4 linked regions of the Homo sapiens genome follow. Each later gene encodes a partner of the first gene's protein in a complex. Each region holds a gene or a part of one and is shown in the gene's direction. Other genes may lie near its edges.

Region 1 (3,500 bases):
ACTAATGAATTAGCACATTAAAAAACATAAATGATAAAATTAAAACATTATTTAAAATGTAAATGTATAACATTACAAAATATGAAAGGCTATAGGCACTAATATGGAGATCTTTAAAGTTATAAAGACATTTAATGTTCAAGTTTAGGCCAAATAAATGTGAAAATCTGAGAAAAATAGGTGATTTTTTAAAGGAAAATACAAACCACCAAACTTGAAGCACAGTTAGAAAACTTGTATAAATCAGTAACTAAAAAGAAATTGAAAAGATTGTCAAAGATAGACTACCTTCATCCCACCTATTCCCATATTCCTGTATGAGTTTAAATTTGAATTCCTCTTTAGGGACAAGTTAAATCTCATTAATGAGTTTTGTAGTATACTTAAGATTCTACATTAAGTCAGAGGGGGTGAAGTTTGGATTTGATTTTTATTATTAAACAGCCAGTTTTTTAAGTTCAGGGGTACATGTGCAGGATGTGCAGGTTTTGTTACATAAGTAAATGTGTGTCATAGGGGTTTGTTGTATAGATTATTTCATCACCCAGGTATTAAGCCTAGTGTCCCTTAGTTATTTTTCCTGATCCTTTCCCTCCTGCCACCCTTCATCCTTCCATATACCCTTCACCCTTCCATATACCCCAGTGTGTGTTCCCCTCTATGTGTCCGTGTGCTGTCATCATTTAGTTCCCACTTATTAGTGAGAACATGCAGTATTTGGTTTTCTGTTCCTACATTAGTTTGCTAAAGATAATGGTCTCCAGCTCCATCCATGTCCCTGCAAAGGACATGATCTCCTTTTTTATGGCTGTATAGTATTTCATGGTGTATACTGGAAAATACATTTTCTTTATCCAGTCTACCATTGATGGGCATTTAGGTTGATTCCATGTCTTTGCTATTGTGAATAGCACTGCAATGAACATAAGTGTGGATGTGTCTTTATAATAGAACAATTTATATTCCTTTGGGTATATACCCAGTAATGGGATTGCTGGGTCAAATGGTAATTCTGTCTTTAGGTCTTTGAGGAATTGTCACACTGCCTTCCTCAATGGTGAACTGATTTATACTCCAACCAAGAGTTTAAAAGCTTTCCTTTGCCTCCACAACCTTGCCAGTATCTGTTATTTTTTGACTTTTGAATAATAGCCATTCTGACTGATATGAGATGGTATCTCATTATGGTTTTGATTTGCATTTCTCTAATCAGTGAAGCTGACCTTTTTTTCACATGATTGTTGGCCACAGGTATGTCTTGTTTTGAGAAGTGTCTTTGCCTACTTTTAAGTGGGGTTTGAACAGGCATTTATTAAACATCCAGCATAAGTAAAATTGCATTAAATGCTGATGGGGGGGAGATATAAATAATAAGAGACAAACCTATCTTCAAAAAGACTAGTAATGTGAAATAAACATTTGCATGAAACAGTAGGATTGAAGAATAAGAACAAAAGAGCACTACGTGTGAGAAGCTCACTTGAAAGTCCCAAATTGAAATAAACACTGTTTTGATGAGAAGGGGCCTCCTTTTTAATATTCTTTCCATGTGGAATCATCAGCAGTAAAGAGATCTATAGATCTGGAAGCAGAAGAGCTGGCTGGATGGAGGGGACTTTGCTGACATCCCCTCTGAAAAATAAGGTCAGAAGAGTGGGCCCGGGGGAGGGTGATTTTCATGATCCATGGCATTTCATTACCCTTGTAAACAGATACTGGAGCTGTGCTCATAGCCAAACTGGAAAACTAGATTATTTAGCAGGTTTTCTTTCCATAGCTGAGCCATAATCTTCCCTTAGGAGAGATACTGTATCTTATCCTTGATGGTACAGTCAGTGCCTAGAACTGAAAAACTACTCAATAAATGGATTTGTTGTTTTGTGATAAGGATGATGTCTTCTTACTTTGCCCAAGCCTGGAAAGTAGGCCAAATATATAATAGAGTTTCTTTCATCTTCCCAGCTCGAGAGTCAGGATGTCTCAGATTTAACAACAGTTGAAAGGGAAGACTCATCATTACTTAATCCTGCAGCCAAAAAACTGAAAATAGATACCAAAGAAAAGAAAGAGAAAAAGCAGAAAGTAGATGAAGATGAGATTCAGAAGATGCAGTAAGTCACTTTCTTATCATTCCCCATTTCGAGGCTCTCACTTGACCACACAAATTTAATAAATTTTTCTTGGTGTTTAAATTTTCTTTTATAAACTCAAAAGAAAATAAAACGATTAATACATTATGGCTGGGCATGGTGGCTCACGCCTGTAATCCCAACACTTTAGAAGGCCAAGGTGGGAGGATTTCTTGAGGCCTAAGTTTGAGACCAGCCTGGGCAACATAGTGAAACCCTTTCTCTAATGTTATGTTATGTTATGTTTTTTTTTTTATTTTTTATTTTTTTGAGATAGAGTCTCACTGTGTCGCCCAGGCTGGAGTGCAATGGTGTGATCTCGGCTCACTGCAGCCTCCACATCCTGAGTTCAAACGATTCTCATGCCTCAGCCTCCCGAGTAGCTGGGACTACAGGCATGCACCGCCATGCCCAGCTAATTTTTGTATTTTTAGTAGAGACAGGGTTTCACTATGTTGGCCAGGCTGGTCTTGAACTCATGACCTCACGTGATCTGCCCGCCTCGGCCTCCCAAAGTGCTAGGATTACAGGCATGAGCCACTGTGCCCGGCCTCTATTTAAAATTTTTTTTTTTTGAGACAGAGTTTCGCTCTCGTTGCTCAGGCTGGAGTGCGGTGGTGCAATCTCTGCTCACTGCAACCTCCGCCTTCTGGTTTCGAGCGATTCTCCTGCCTCAGCCTCCCAGGTAGCTGGGACTACAGGCTCCTGCCACCATGCCTGGCTAATTTTTGTATTTTTAGTAGATACAGGTTTTTGCCATGTTGGCCAGGCGGGTCTCGAACTCCTGACTTCGTGATCCGCCCGCCTCAGCCTCCCAAAATGCTGGGATTACAGGTGTGAGCCACTGTGCCTGGCCAAAAACAATTTTTTCAAATAATTATGTTACAGCATAGAAAATATAAATAGATAAAAAGAAGGCCGAGATCGGTGGCTCACACCTGTAATCCCAGCACTTTGGGAGGCTGAGGCGGGTGGATCACTTGAGGTCAGGAGTTTGAGACCAGCCTGGCCAACATGGTGAAACCCCGTCTCTACTAAAATTACAAAAAATTAGCCAGGTGTCGTGGTGGGTGCCTGTAGTCCCAGCTACTCGGGAGGCTGAGGTAGGAGAATTACTTGAACCCAGGAGGCAGAGGTTGCAGTGAGCCAAGACTGCGCCACTGCACTCCAGCCTGGGCGATAGAGCCAGATGCTGTCTCAAAAAAAATAAATAGATAAGAAGAAAAAATAATTACCTTACCACAGAGATATATCCTGCTTATAAGTTTCAAGATAGTTTCTATACATATATATCTATAAATTTTTTTTTCCACAAATGTCAAATACTGTTTTGTAGCCTATTTTTCACATTAGATATGGTGAATGTTTTCC
Region 2 (3,500 bases), on another chromosome or scaffold:
CTATACTTACTTTTTTGTTTGTTTGTTTGAGACAGAGTCTCGCTCTGTCACCCAGGCTGGAGTGCAGTGGCGCGATCTCAGCTCACTGCAAGCTCCGCCTCCCAGGTTTACGCCATTATCCGGCCTCAGTCTCCGGAGTAGCTGGGACTACAGGCACCCACCACCAGGCCAGGCTAATTTTTTGTATTTTTAGTAGAGACGGGGTTTCACAGTGTTAGCCAGGGTGGTCTCGATCTCCTGACCTCGTGATCCACCCACCTCAGCCTCCCAAAGTGCTGGGATTACAGGCGTGAGCCTCTGTGCCTGGCCACTTTTTTTTTTTTTTTTTTGAGACAGAATCTTACTGTGTTGCCCAGGCTGGAGTGCAGTGGCGCAATCTCGGTTCACTGTAACCTCTGCCTCCCCGGTTCAAGCATTTCTCCTGCCTCAGCCTCCTGAGTAGCTGGGACTACAGGCCCGTGCCACCTCTCCCAGCTAATTTTTTGAATTTTAGTGGAGACTGAGTTGCACCATGTTGCCTAGGCTGGTCTTGAACTCCTGAGCTCAGGCAATCCGCTCGCCTCAGCCTCCCAAAGTGCTGGGATTACAGGTGTGAGCCACCTCACTGGCCCTATACTTACTATTTGTAATGATCAATTGGATAAATGTATATTGGGGGTTATGAGATTGATGAAGGAGACAGTGGACTAAAGCCATAAGCTGGGAAAATGCATATGGATGTGATGTTGATAGGGAATTTAAAAGAGATAAAGGATATTTCAGTGTTTTATAAGGTACAGCTGTTAAATATCTGAGTAGAAAGTTTCCTTAGGAAGCAGAAGAGTCGTGGAGTTGTAGAGGAGGTAAATTAGGGCCGCATATGTAGATTTGGGTTTAATCTAGGTGAAGGTGATTCTTGAGAGAGGGAATAGGGAACGTATAGGGGAATAAAAGCAGAGTCTTTAGGACGAATTCTTGAGTGATGCCAATGGTTAAGGGGCAGTGAAAAGAGTAATAAACTGCAGATGACAGATAGAAAAAGTGTGTCATCTCTCATTTGAGAGATGAAAGACCAGTCTTAAGGGAAACTGACAGAGGGAGAAGATTCCCAAAGTGCTGGGATTACAGGTGCGAGCCACTGTGCCTGGCCCAGTATGAAAATTCTAAAAAAGATATGGTCAGGAAAGGAGCAAATGTTTCAAGCAGCTCTTGGAAACGCTTTCATATGTTGTATGATTTTTTCTTTTCTTTCTTTCTTTTTTTTTTTTGAGACAGTTTCACTGTGTCGCCCAGGCTGGAGTGCAGTGGCGCAATCTCGGCTTACTGCAACCTTCACCTCCCGGTTCAAGTGCTTCTTGTGCCTCAGCCTCCCAAGTAGCTGGGATTACAGGCACATGCCACCACTCCTGGCTAGTTTTTGTATTTTTGACAGAGATGGGGTTTTGTCATGTTGGCCAGGCTGGTCTCTGAACTCCTGACCTCAGGTGATCTGCCCGCCTCAGCCTCCCAGAGTGCTGGCGTGAGCCACCATGCCCAGCCATCATATCTTGTGTGAGATATTATATATGTTATAGCAATTGACTTGCACCGTGATGTCATCTCTTTCTGAAGGCTAAAGCTATGTTTCAGATAGATATGTAAAATATTTTGAGGCATGGTCTTGCTCTGTCACACGATTACTGCTCATCAAAGCCTTGACCTCCTGGGCTCAAACTGTCTCCCGACCTCAGCCTCCTGAGTAGCTGGTACTACAGGCGTGTGCCACCACGCCTAGCTAATTTTTGTATTTTTTGTAGAGATGGGGTTTCTCCATGTTGTTTAGGCTGGTCTTGAAATTCTGGGCTCAAGTGATCTGCCCATCTTGGCCTCCCAAAGTGCTGGGATTACAGGCGTGAGCCATCATGCCTGGCCCTCACCTTGCTTTTTTCACTTGTGTGTTCTTAAGGGATATGCATAGTGTTTCATGTGGTGCTTTAAATTATTGAGTGGCCCTGTAATCCCAGTACTTTGGGAGGCTGAGGCAGGTGGATCACAAGGTCAGGAGTTCGAGACCAGCCCGACCGACATGGAGAAACCCCGTCTCTACTAAAAATACAAAAATTAGCTGGGCGTGGTGGCACATTCCTGTAATCCCAGCTACTCAGGAGGCTGAGGCAGGAGAACTCGGGAGGTGGAGGTTGCAGTCAGCTGAGATTGCACCGCTGCACTCCAGCCTGGGCGACAGAGCAAGACTCTGTCTCAAAAAAAAAAAAAAAATTGAGTGGCAAGGAAGCTTAAGGCGGTTGTATAATATTTTGGATATTGAGGAGATCACCTTCTTGGTTTTATTAGATTATGATGAAGATGACTATGATGCTGATTGTGAAGACATTGATTGCAAGTTGATGCCTCCTCCACCTCCACCCCCGGGACCAATGAAGAAGGATAAGGACCAGGATTCTATTACTGGTGGTAAGTAGAGATTGTCTACTTTTGTCTGAGGAGCAAGTTTTCATTCCTAAGTCCAGGCTTGTGGCACACACATAAGGGACAAACTTAAGCTTATATGAAGGGACAAAACTTCTAGAAATAATTCATACAATCGCAAATTTTAGTATTAAAGGGAAGTTTTACTTTTAAAACATTTGGCAACAGTATTTTAACATGTGCTCAAGAAATAGTAGTTTAGTCAGTGGTTCTCAAATCTGGCTACCCATCAGAATCACTTAGAATCTTTAAAAAAAAAAAACAAATACCTGACTTTCACCCCTTGAGCCTGATTCAGAAGATCTTGGGTAGAGTCCAGGAATTTAATTAAATTAATTAAAATTTTTTTGAGAAAGAGTCTTGCTGTGTTGTGCAGGTTGGAGTGCAGTAGCACGATCTTGGCTCACTGCAACCTCCGCCTCCCGGGTTCAAGTGATTCTCATGCCTCAGCCTCCAGAGTAGGGGCTGGAACTCCTGACCTCAAGTGATCCGCTCGCCTTGGTCTTCCAAAGTGCTGGGATTACAGGCGTGAGCCACTGCTCCCTGCCGAACCCGGGAATCTTAAAGAGTTTCTTAAGTAATTTATGATACAACTGATCTGTATACTGGTATTTGGAAACTACTTGTTTAGATGGCTTTATTTTAAATGAAGTGGTTAAATTAGGAAGGTGCCCTGGAATGTTGATAAATCAGATAGTGTCAACTACCAGATATTCAGAGATTTCAAAGGCTAGTAGAGTCTTCAGTGTTTATCTTACCTATTCCTATAACAGTAACTGTCCTAGGCTTGAAAACTGGGGAAGAGCAGTGTTTTTGACCTCCTGTATTTTGAGGCTTGTATTAACCTAAATTCTTCCTGTTGGAGTTTTAAGCCATTTCTTTTAACAGTCTGCTAAATGTCAGCTGTTAACTTTGTTTTATAGATCTTATTTATGCCAAAGAACCTTAATGTTGTCCCGTGGGCTTAAAAAAATTCTCCAGCTCATGAGTCTCTGAACTAGGACTACCTGAGTGGTATAAAGTATTACATAGTTTTGCTATTGGTCACAACATTG
Region 3 (3,500 bases), on another chromosome or scaffold:
CCTGAGATGGGGTTTTGCTATGTTGCCCAGGGTGGTCAGGAATTCCTAAGCCCAAGCAGTCTTCCCACCTCACCCTCCCAAAGTGCACAGATTACAGGCATGAGCTGAGCCACTGCACCTGCCCATTATAAGGATTTCAGGTTTTACTTTATGGCAAGTGGAGAGCCATTATGAGGGTTTGAGCAAAGAAATGACAATCTGCTTTACAGTTTGACAGAAGCATTTTGGCTGCAACGTTAGGAATAGATGTAGAGAAAGGCAAGGGTAGACTCCGGTTGACATTGTTAGGAGGTTTTTGGAGTTACCCAGTGGATAGATGATGGTGACCTGGGCCAAGCAGTGGGAGCAGAGGAGTCAGGTTGGACTACCTGGTGGATTGATTGATTTTTGAGACAGAGTCTCGCTCTGTCGCCAGGCTGGAGTCCAGTGGCACGATCTTGGCTCACTGCAACCTCCACTTCCCAGGTTCAAGTGATTCTCTTGCCTCAGCCTCCCGAGTAGCTGGGACTACAGGTGCGTGCCACCACGCCAAGCTAGTTTTTGTATTTTTAGTAGAGATGGGATTTCACCATGTTGGCCAGGATGGTCTCCATCTCTTGACCTGGTGATCCGTCCGCCTCGGCCTCCCAAAGTGCTGGGATTACAGGTGTGAGCCAACGCGCCCGACCGGATTTATTTTTTTACCTTTTTTTTTTTTTTGAGACAGAGTCCATCTGTCACTGAGGCTGGAGTGCAATGGCGCAATCTCAACTCACTGCAAACTCTACTGCCGAGGCTCAAGTGATTCTCCTGCCTCAGCCTCCCAAGTAGCTGGGATTACAGGCACGCGCCACCATGCCCAGCTAATTTTTGTATTTTTAGTAGAGAAAGGGTTTTACCATGTTGCTCAGGCTGGTCTCGAACTCCTGACCTGAAGTGATCCACCCACCTTGGCCTCCCAAATTGCTGGAATTACAGACGTGAGCCACCGCACCTGGCCTACCTGGTGGATTTGATGTGAAGGCTCAGATAAAGAACAAGTGTCTGGATGGATGGCATTGCTATGAAGATAAGGAAAGCTGAGCCTGGGCCAGACACTTCGGCTCACGCCTTTAATTCCAACACTTTGAGAGGCCAACGCTGGAGGATTGCTTGAGCCCAAAACTTCAAAGTGGTGGGATTGAAGCCCTGAGGTGTAACAGAAAAAGATAAAAATCTGGGCTGGGCCTGGTGGCTCAGGCCTGTAATTCCAACACTTTGGGAGGCCGAAGCAGGAGGACTGCGTGAGCCCAGCAGTTCAAGACCAGCCTGGACAACATAGTGAGACTCTGTCTCTGCCCCTGCCCCTGCAAAAAATTGGCTGTGTGTAGTGGTACACACCTATAGTCCCAGCTACTTGGGAGGCTGAGGTGTGAGGATTGCTTGAGCCTAGGAGCTCCTGGGCTCTATCAGTTTTCCCACCTCTGCCTCCTGAGTAGCTAGAACAACAGCCCTGTGCCTGCATACCCAGCTAATTTTTGTATTTTTTGTACAGATGGGGTCTCACTGTGTTGTCCAGGCTGGTCGTGAACTGCTGGGCTCAAGCGATCCTCCTACCTTGGGCTCCCAGAGTGTTGGAATTACAGGCATGAGCCACTAGGCCCAGTCCAGATTTTTTTTTTTTTTTTCCTGAGACGGAGTCACCCTGGCTGGAGTGCAGTGGCGTGATCTCGGCTCACTGCAACCTCTGCCCTCTGGTTTCAAGTGATTCTCGTGCCTTAGTCTCCCTAGTAGCTGGGATTACAGGTGTGCACTACCACGCCCTGCTAATTTTTGTATTTTTAGTAGAGATGGGGTTTCTCCATGTTGGCCAGGCTGGTCTCGAATTCCTGACCTCAAGTGATCCGCCCGCCTCGTCCTCCCAAAGTGCTGGTGGGATTACAGGCGTGAGCCACTGAACCTGGCCCCAGCCCAGATTTGTATCTTTCTCTGTTACACCTCAGGGCTGACTCACGTGGGGATGGACATAAGACACTCGGAGTTCCTCCCCTGTCTCCACTGTCCTCCCTTTGTTGGCCCTCTCCCTGTGTCTCACGTTTCTTTTTCTTCTGCCTGCCCCGTTCCTCTGCCAGGGTCTCCGTCTCTCCACCGGGGGCTTCATCCTTCCAGGGAGGAGAAGAGGGACTCCAGAATGGCTGAGGAGAAGAAGCTGAAGCTTAGCAACACTGTGCTGCCCTCGGAGTCCATGAAGGTGGTGGCTGAATCCATGGGCATCGCCCAGATTCAGGAGGAGACCTGCCAGCTGCTAACGGATGAGGTCAGCTACCGCATCAAAGAGATCGCACAGGTGACCCGGCCCTTCTGTCCAGCTCTACATTGGGTCCATGTCACCCAGGGCCCCGTCCTTAGGATTTTGGGCTGATGTCTGTTCTGTCACCGACCCCAGGATGCCTTGAAGTTCATGCACATGGGGAAGCGGCAGAAGCTCACCACCAGTGACATTGACTACGCCTTGAAGCTAAAGAATGTCGAGGTGATTTGGGGAGACAGGCGGGGGGGGGGTGAGACGCCATCCTTCAGCCAGGTCTCCTCCGGCTCCCTTCTTACCCATGCCCCTCTCTCCTGCCACAGCCACTCTATGGCTTCCACGCCCAGGAGTTCATTCCTTTCCGCTTCGCCTCTGGTGGGGGCCGGGAGCTTTACTTCTATGAGGAGAAGGAGGTTGATCTGAGCGACATCATCAATACCCCTCTGCCCCGGGTGCCCCTGGACGTCTGCCTCAAAGGTTGGGGGAGGGGAGAGCAGGGTGGCAGGGAGGAGGGAAAGGAGGACAGATGTGTGTAGGTGTGAGGAGCCTCACAATAGAAGAAAAGCTCAGTGTGAGATCCCTGGTGAGTTGCAAGGGGAGCAGGAGTGGAAACACGCTTCCATAGCATGGGGCAACTCCCCAATGTCCATGCGTGGCAATTCACCTTGACACCTGCCTTCCTTGCAGCTCATTGGCTGAGCATCGAGGGCTGCCAGCCAGCTATCCCCGAGAACCCGCCCCCAGGTAACCTCCATGCCCCACCCTCTGGGTCTCTGGGTCCCTTTCCCCTTCCTTCCACCTTTTTTTTTTGAGACAGAGTCTCACTCTGTTGCCTGTGCTGGAGTGCAGGAGTGCTGGAGTGCAGTGGCTCAATCTTGGCTCACTGCAAACCTGTGCCTCCTGGGTTCACGCGATTCTTGTGTCTCAGCCTCCTGAGTAGCTGGGACTACAAGCACACACCACCACGCCCGGCTAATTTTTTGTAATTTTAGTAGACACGAGGTTTCACCATGTTGGCCAGGCTGGTCTCGAACTTCTGACCTGAGGTGATCCACCCGCCTTGGCCTCCCAAAGTGCTGGGATTACAGGCATGAGCCACCGCATCCGGCCTCCTCCCACCTTTTACTTTTCTACTATGCTCATCACCCCTCCCGCTGTGCCTGCTTTCCCACCAGCTCCCAAAGAGCAACAGAAGGCTGAAGCCACAGAACCCCTGAAGTCAGCCAAGCCAGGC
Region 4 (4,034 bases), about 140 Mb from region 1:
GTTGAAAACGTAGGGCGAAAATCGCAGCTGCAAAGGGCCCGCGGCTCTGTGCGGTTCCATCCCCAAGTCTCTGCCAGGAGCCGAATACATGGCTGTAGAGGACAACATCGCACGGCTGCGCCTGCGGATCCGACACTTGCTGTCTCACGGCGAGATGGCTGCCTTGACCGGACGTTACGCCACTTCCGGCTTCTCCTGAAGTTCGCTCCCGGCCTCTCTATCTCACGCTAGTCGTTGCTCCTGGAGGGCTGCACGGCGGCTTGTCCCTTTGGTAGTTGAATCCCGCCCATTCCAAAAAGCGCTGACAGGGATGTAAAGGGTTTTTTTTGTTTGTTTTTTGTTTTTTTCCCCCTCGAAGAAAACATTGGAATTCACCCCAATGGACAAAAATTTAAGTCTGACCATACAAAAAAATTGTCAGAACTATGGCGCAACGGCAACTCGAATAACGGTGGGAACGTTAATTGTCCTGGCTAATAAAAAATGTATATAACATTTCCTATCCTTAAAGAGCTCACAACCTCACTGATAATAAAAAGTACAAAGAAAACAAGCAGTATAACATATGATTACGCCACAATGAACTACAGAAGGGAAAATCAAGGCGTGCTGAAGTCCCACTAAGAAACAACTGCGGAAAGAGCCATGTGACAACAGTGCATGAACTGGGAGTGGCAGAACTGAATATAAATGCATGTGTAAACACAAGCTGTTTGTTTTGCTTAGTGTTCCTTGTCATTCTACACGCTTGAAGATCAGCTAGCGTTCTTGCTGACAGGTAAGGAGGACGCGCTTACTGAGTGCCAAGCACTGCTCAGGCACTGATTCTGTCAATCTCTGTCAATCTCCCGACAGCCCAAGGGTAAGCACTGTTATCATTATTCAATTTTACAGAAAAAAAATGCGGGGGAGAGGTCAGGTAACTTGTCGAAGGTAACGCCGCTAGTTGCTTTAAACAACAACAACAACAACAACAAAACACACTCACACATATACACACACACGCCATTTAAAAATCGATCTTTCCTACGTCCAGCAAGGGCCAATTAGAGATGGCTGTGGCACGGCGGCCCCGCCCCGGAACTCCTCAAGAGCTTCGCCCCTCCTTACCTATGGAAACACAGGAAGTGACCTATGCTCACACTTCTCATGGCCTCGGCCCTAGTGGGAGCAACTCGCTGAAGCCGAGGGCAGAACTGGCGGAAGTGACATTATCAACGCGCGCCAGGGGTTCAGTGAGGTCGGGCAGGTTCGCTGTGGCGGGCGCCTGGGCCGCCGGCTGTTTAACTTCGCTTCCGCTGGCCCATAGTGATCTTTGCAGTGACCCAGGTAACAGATTGTACTCTTTTCTGACGGTTCGGGCGAAGGCCACCACTGCACTGAGGCCTGGGGGCAATGGTGGGGAAGAGACTAGGAATTGGCGCGCGTGCAGGCCCCTCGGGGGACGTTCCTCCCTTTCGTGCTGCCGCCGTTCCGGCCTGTAACGGCCACTCGGCCGCCACTCCCGCCTGGTGCCCTACTCTGCTGTGTTTCGCAGGCAGCTTCCCATCGTACGATTGTGGGGCTCAGGGTACTACTGGCTGGCTGGGCGGCGGCAGGCGGGACAGGACAGTCCCTTGCATCGAAGACCCTAAGTTTACCCTGCCCTGTCCTGCCATCCGCTTCTTCTCCATGTTAGAAGCAGATTCACCCAGATCTGTGCCCGCCTGTTTTGCTGCCAACATTGAGACTTAAATATTTTGTCAGAAGCCTGAGACAGCGGGCACGGTAGCGCTTAAGATATAATACACACCACTTTATTTGCAGGGTCTCCCGTCTCTCGGTTCAGGCCATCATGGTTTTCCAAATCTCTAGGTAGACTTTTCTGTGAAAAGACTGTGCTTCATTTAGTTATACAGACACTAGAAGGCTATGCAGAATTAATTTGATTGCCTCCAAAAAATATCGGATTTGATGTTTCAATTTCCAGGAGATGAAGATACCCAGCAAACAACTCTTTTCTGAGGATAAATTAGTGCAGTAATCACTGTGCGGTTTCTTCTGTAGACTTACTTGCAAAAAGTGGCCTGAAGCCACCGAAGGTCCTGGATAAATCTCTAATCATACTTATAATGGCTTTAAATCCTGCCGTCATTATCTCTTGCCTCAACCTTAGATTCCTGAAACGAAACTTCCGTCCTCCAGTTTTACTCCTCTCAAATTCATCTAGTCTTGCCAAATTAGATCTGTTCATACTGCACTTCCGAAATTCCATAACTGTTATTATTGCCTATGCAATAACATTGAAAACTCCTGATAGTATGAGCCCACCAATATGTGCTGTCTCATCTGCTGCAGTGACCTTCTATACAGTCATACTAAGCTTGTTGCCTGCATACTGCATGCTTTTTCAATCTGTCTCTTTCTGCTTGATTTCTCTTTTGTCTGAAGCCCTGATGTGTAAATTCCTACTCACCTTGTGAGACCCAAGTTAGATGGTCCCTGCTTTGTGAAAACACTGCGCTCTCTTCACAGTGATTGGCTGTTAGTCTATATTGTCTTCTCTTCCAGGGGTGTATATGGGCTCATTCATGATCACATACTGTATTCCAGGCATAGTGCTAGATGCAGAGATCACAAAGACATGTAGGCTGGTTTCTGCATTCAAGGAACTTAGCTTAGACCATACCTGCTGTTATAATACTATGTTTTACAGTAGTTATTTGCATACCCTTCATATTGAACACTTTGATGCCAAGGACTATATCCTCCTATCTTTATATCCTCATCTGCAGGACTTCTGTTATTGTTATTATAGGATAACTGTCAAAAAAAAAGTATATTTTAAAAAATATCTCTGATATATTTATTTCCAGAAGCAGAGCTTGCTTTCTTTTTTGGTCTGTTTTTCAGTGATGAGTATGTAGGATAGATAGTCTTTGGGGGCCTTTGCCCTTTCAAAGTGATCGTCAGAGTCTTTCATACATTCAGCAAATATCTGAGTGTCTGTTCTGTACCAGCACATGCTTGAAGTGCATATGCCTGAAGGATCTTTGGACATATAATTTGTAACTTTGAGACCTCTAAGTTCTATGTGAGAATATGTTGTTATAAACTCATTTCAGATGTGTAGTGAGTAAAGCGATGATGATTTAAGAAAAGTCAGATAACAGGCACAGTTTGCATTAATGTGTTCTAAAGAGGTAAGGTTATTACATTTATAAAAATTCAGGGCTTTATCTTTGTGCGGCTTTTTTTTTTTTAACAGTTTCATTACAGTAGGAGCTTGATAAATGATCACTCTGAAGTATATTGGATTGAATTTGATATTTACTTAATTTTTTGCCCAAGACATTGTAGAGGATGTAAAATTGGAATATTTAAAGATCTAAACTTTGCCTAACAGTGCTGTGTATACAGTGCTTAGTGAATATTCTGCTCTGATATTACATTTTGCTTAGGAATTATTTTTCTCTAGGTGTTTTTCCTCAAAAGTTTTTAATGCTGGTTATGACAGCTCGATTTTGAGCATTTTCCGATTATTTAAACATGTAACAAAATGATTTTTGTTTTGTTGGCGATTTTACATGCAATCGCCGGAAACATGGAAGGAATAAAACTTTAGGATTATAAGGTAAAAACAAATGTATTCCAAAATAGCTTCATTGGTTTTCATGTTTGTGTTTTGTATAGCCATAGAACTGGCTTATAGGACTGTACAGGTTACCTGGATCCTTAAATTAAACTTTAGACTTTTTTCCAAAGCAGCATCACTGTTTCTTGGCGTGTGAAGATAACCCAAGGAATTGAGGAAGTTGCTGAGAAGAGTGTGCTGGAGATGCTCTAGGAAAAAATTGAATAGTGAGACGAGTTCCAGCGCAAGGGTTTCTGGTTTGCCAAGAAGAAAGTGAACATCATGGATCAGAACAACAGCCTGCCACCTTACGCTCAGGGCTTGGCCTCCCCTCAGGTAATATAGCAGGAGGGAGAGAATAGGGAGGGCGGAAATCTGAACTGCAAGAGATGGTATCAAAAGGCAAGGAAGGGCATTTAAT

What was found.
Region 2: TAF11 (region 1) and TAF1 share a complex: the UniProt entries of both Homo sapiens proteins name them as parts of the TFIID basal transcription factor complex.
Region 3: TAF11 (region 1) and TAF6 share a complex: the UniProt entries of both Homo sapiens proteins name them as parts of the TFIID basal transcription factor complex.
Region 4: TAF11 (region 1) and TBP share a complex: the UniProt entries of both Homo sapiens proteins name them as parts of the TFIID basal transcription factor complex.

Annotation. Positions count from the first base shown.
Region 1 is NC_000006.12:34,881,543-34,885,042, reverse strand, and holds part of TAF11 (transcription initiation factor TFIID subunit 11), read left to right. Parts: exon of another isoform or gene 1-1,605; coding exon of another isoform or gene 1,606-1,644; intron 1,645-1,962; coding exon 1,963-2,111; intron 2,112-3,500. UniProt on the Homo sapiens protein: The TFIID basal transcription factor complex plays a major role in the initiation of RNA polymerase II (Pol II)-dependent transcription.
Region 2 is NC_000023.11:71,372,857-71,376,356, forward strand, and holds part of TAF1 (transcription initiation factor TFIID subunit 1), read left to right. Parts: intron 1-2,310; coding exon 2,311-2,430; intron 2,431-3,500. UniProt on the Homo sapiens protein: The TFIID basal transcription factor complex plays a major role in the initiation of RNA polymerase II (Pol II)-dependent transcription.
Region 3 is NC_000007.14:100,112,859-100,116,358, reverse strand, and holds part of TAF6 (transcription initiation factor TFIID subunit 6), read left to right. Parts: intron 1-60; exon of another isoform or gene 61-513; intron 514-2,090; coding exon of another isoform or gene 2,091-2,149; coding exon 2,150-2,305; intron 2,306-2,404; coding exon 2,405-2,491; intron 2,492-2,589; coding exon 2,590-2,743; intron 2,744-2,953; coding exon 2,954-3,010; intron 3,011-3,441; coding exon 3,442-3,500. UniProt on the Homo sapiens protein: The TFIID basal transcription factor complex plays a major role in the initiation of RNA polymerase II (Pol II)-dependent transcription.
Region 4 is NC_000006.12:170,553,135-170,557,168, forward strand, and holds the start of TBP (TATA-box-binding protein), read left to right. Parts: upstream 1-1,234; 5' UTR 1,235-1,329; intron 1,330-3,747; 5' UTR 3,748-3,895; coding exon 3,896-3,949; intron 3,950-4,034. Other genes in the region: PSMB1 (proteasome subunit beta type-1), read right to left, coding at 1-108. UniProt on the Homo sapiens protein: The TFIID basal transcription factor complex plays a major role in the initiation of RNA polymerase II (Pol II)-dependent transcription.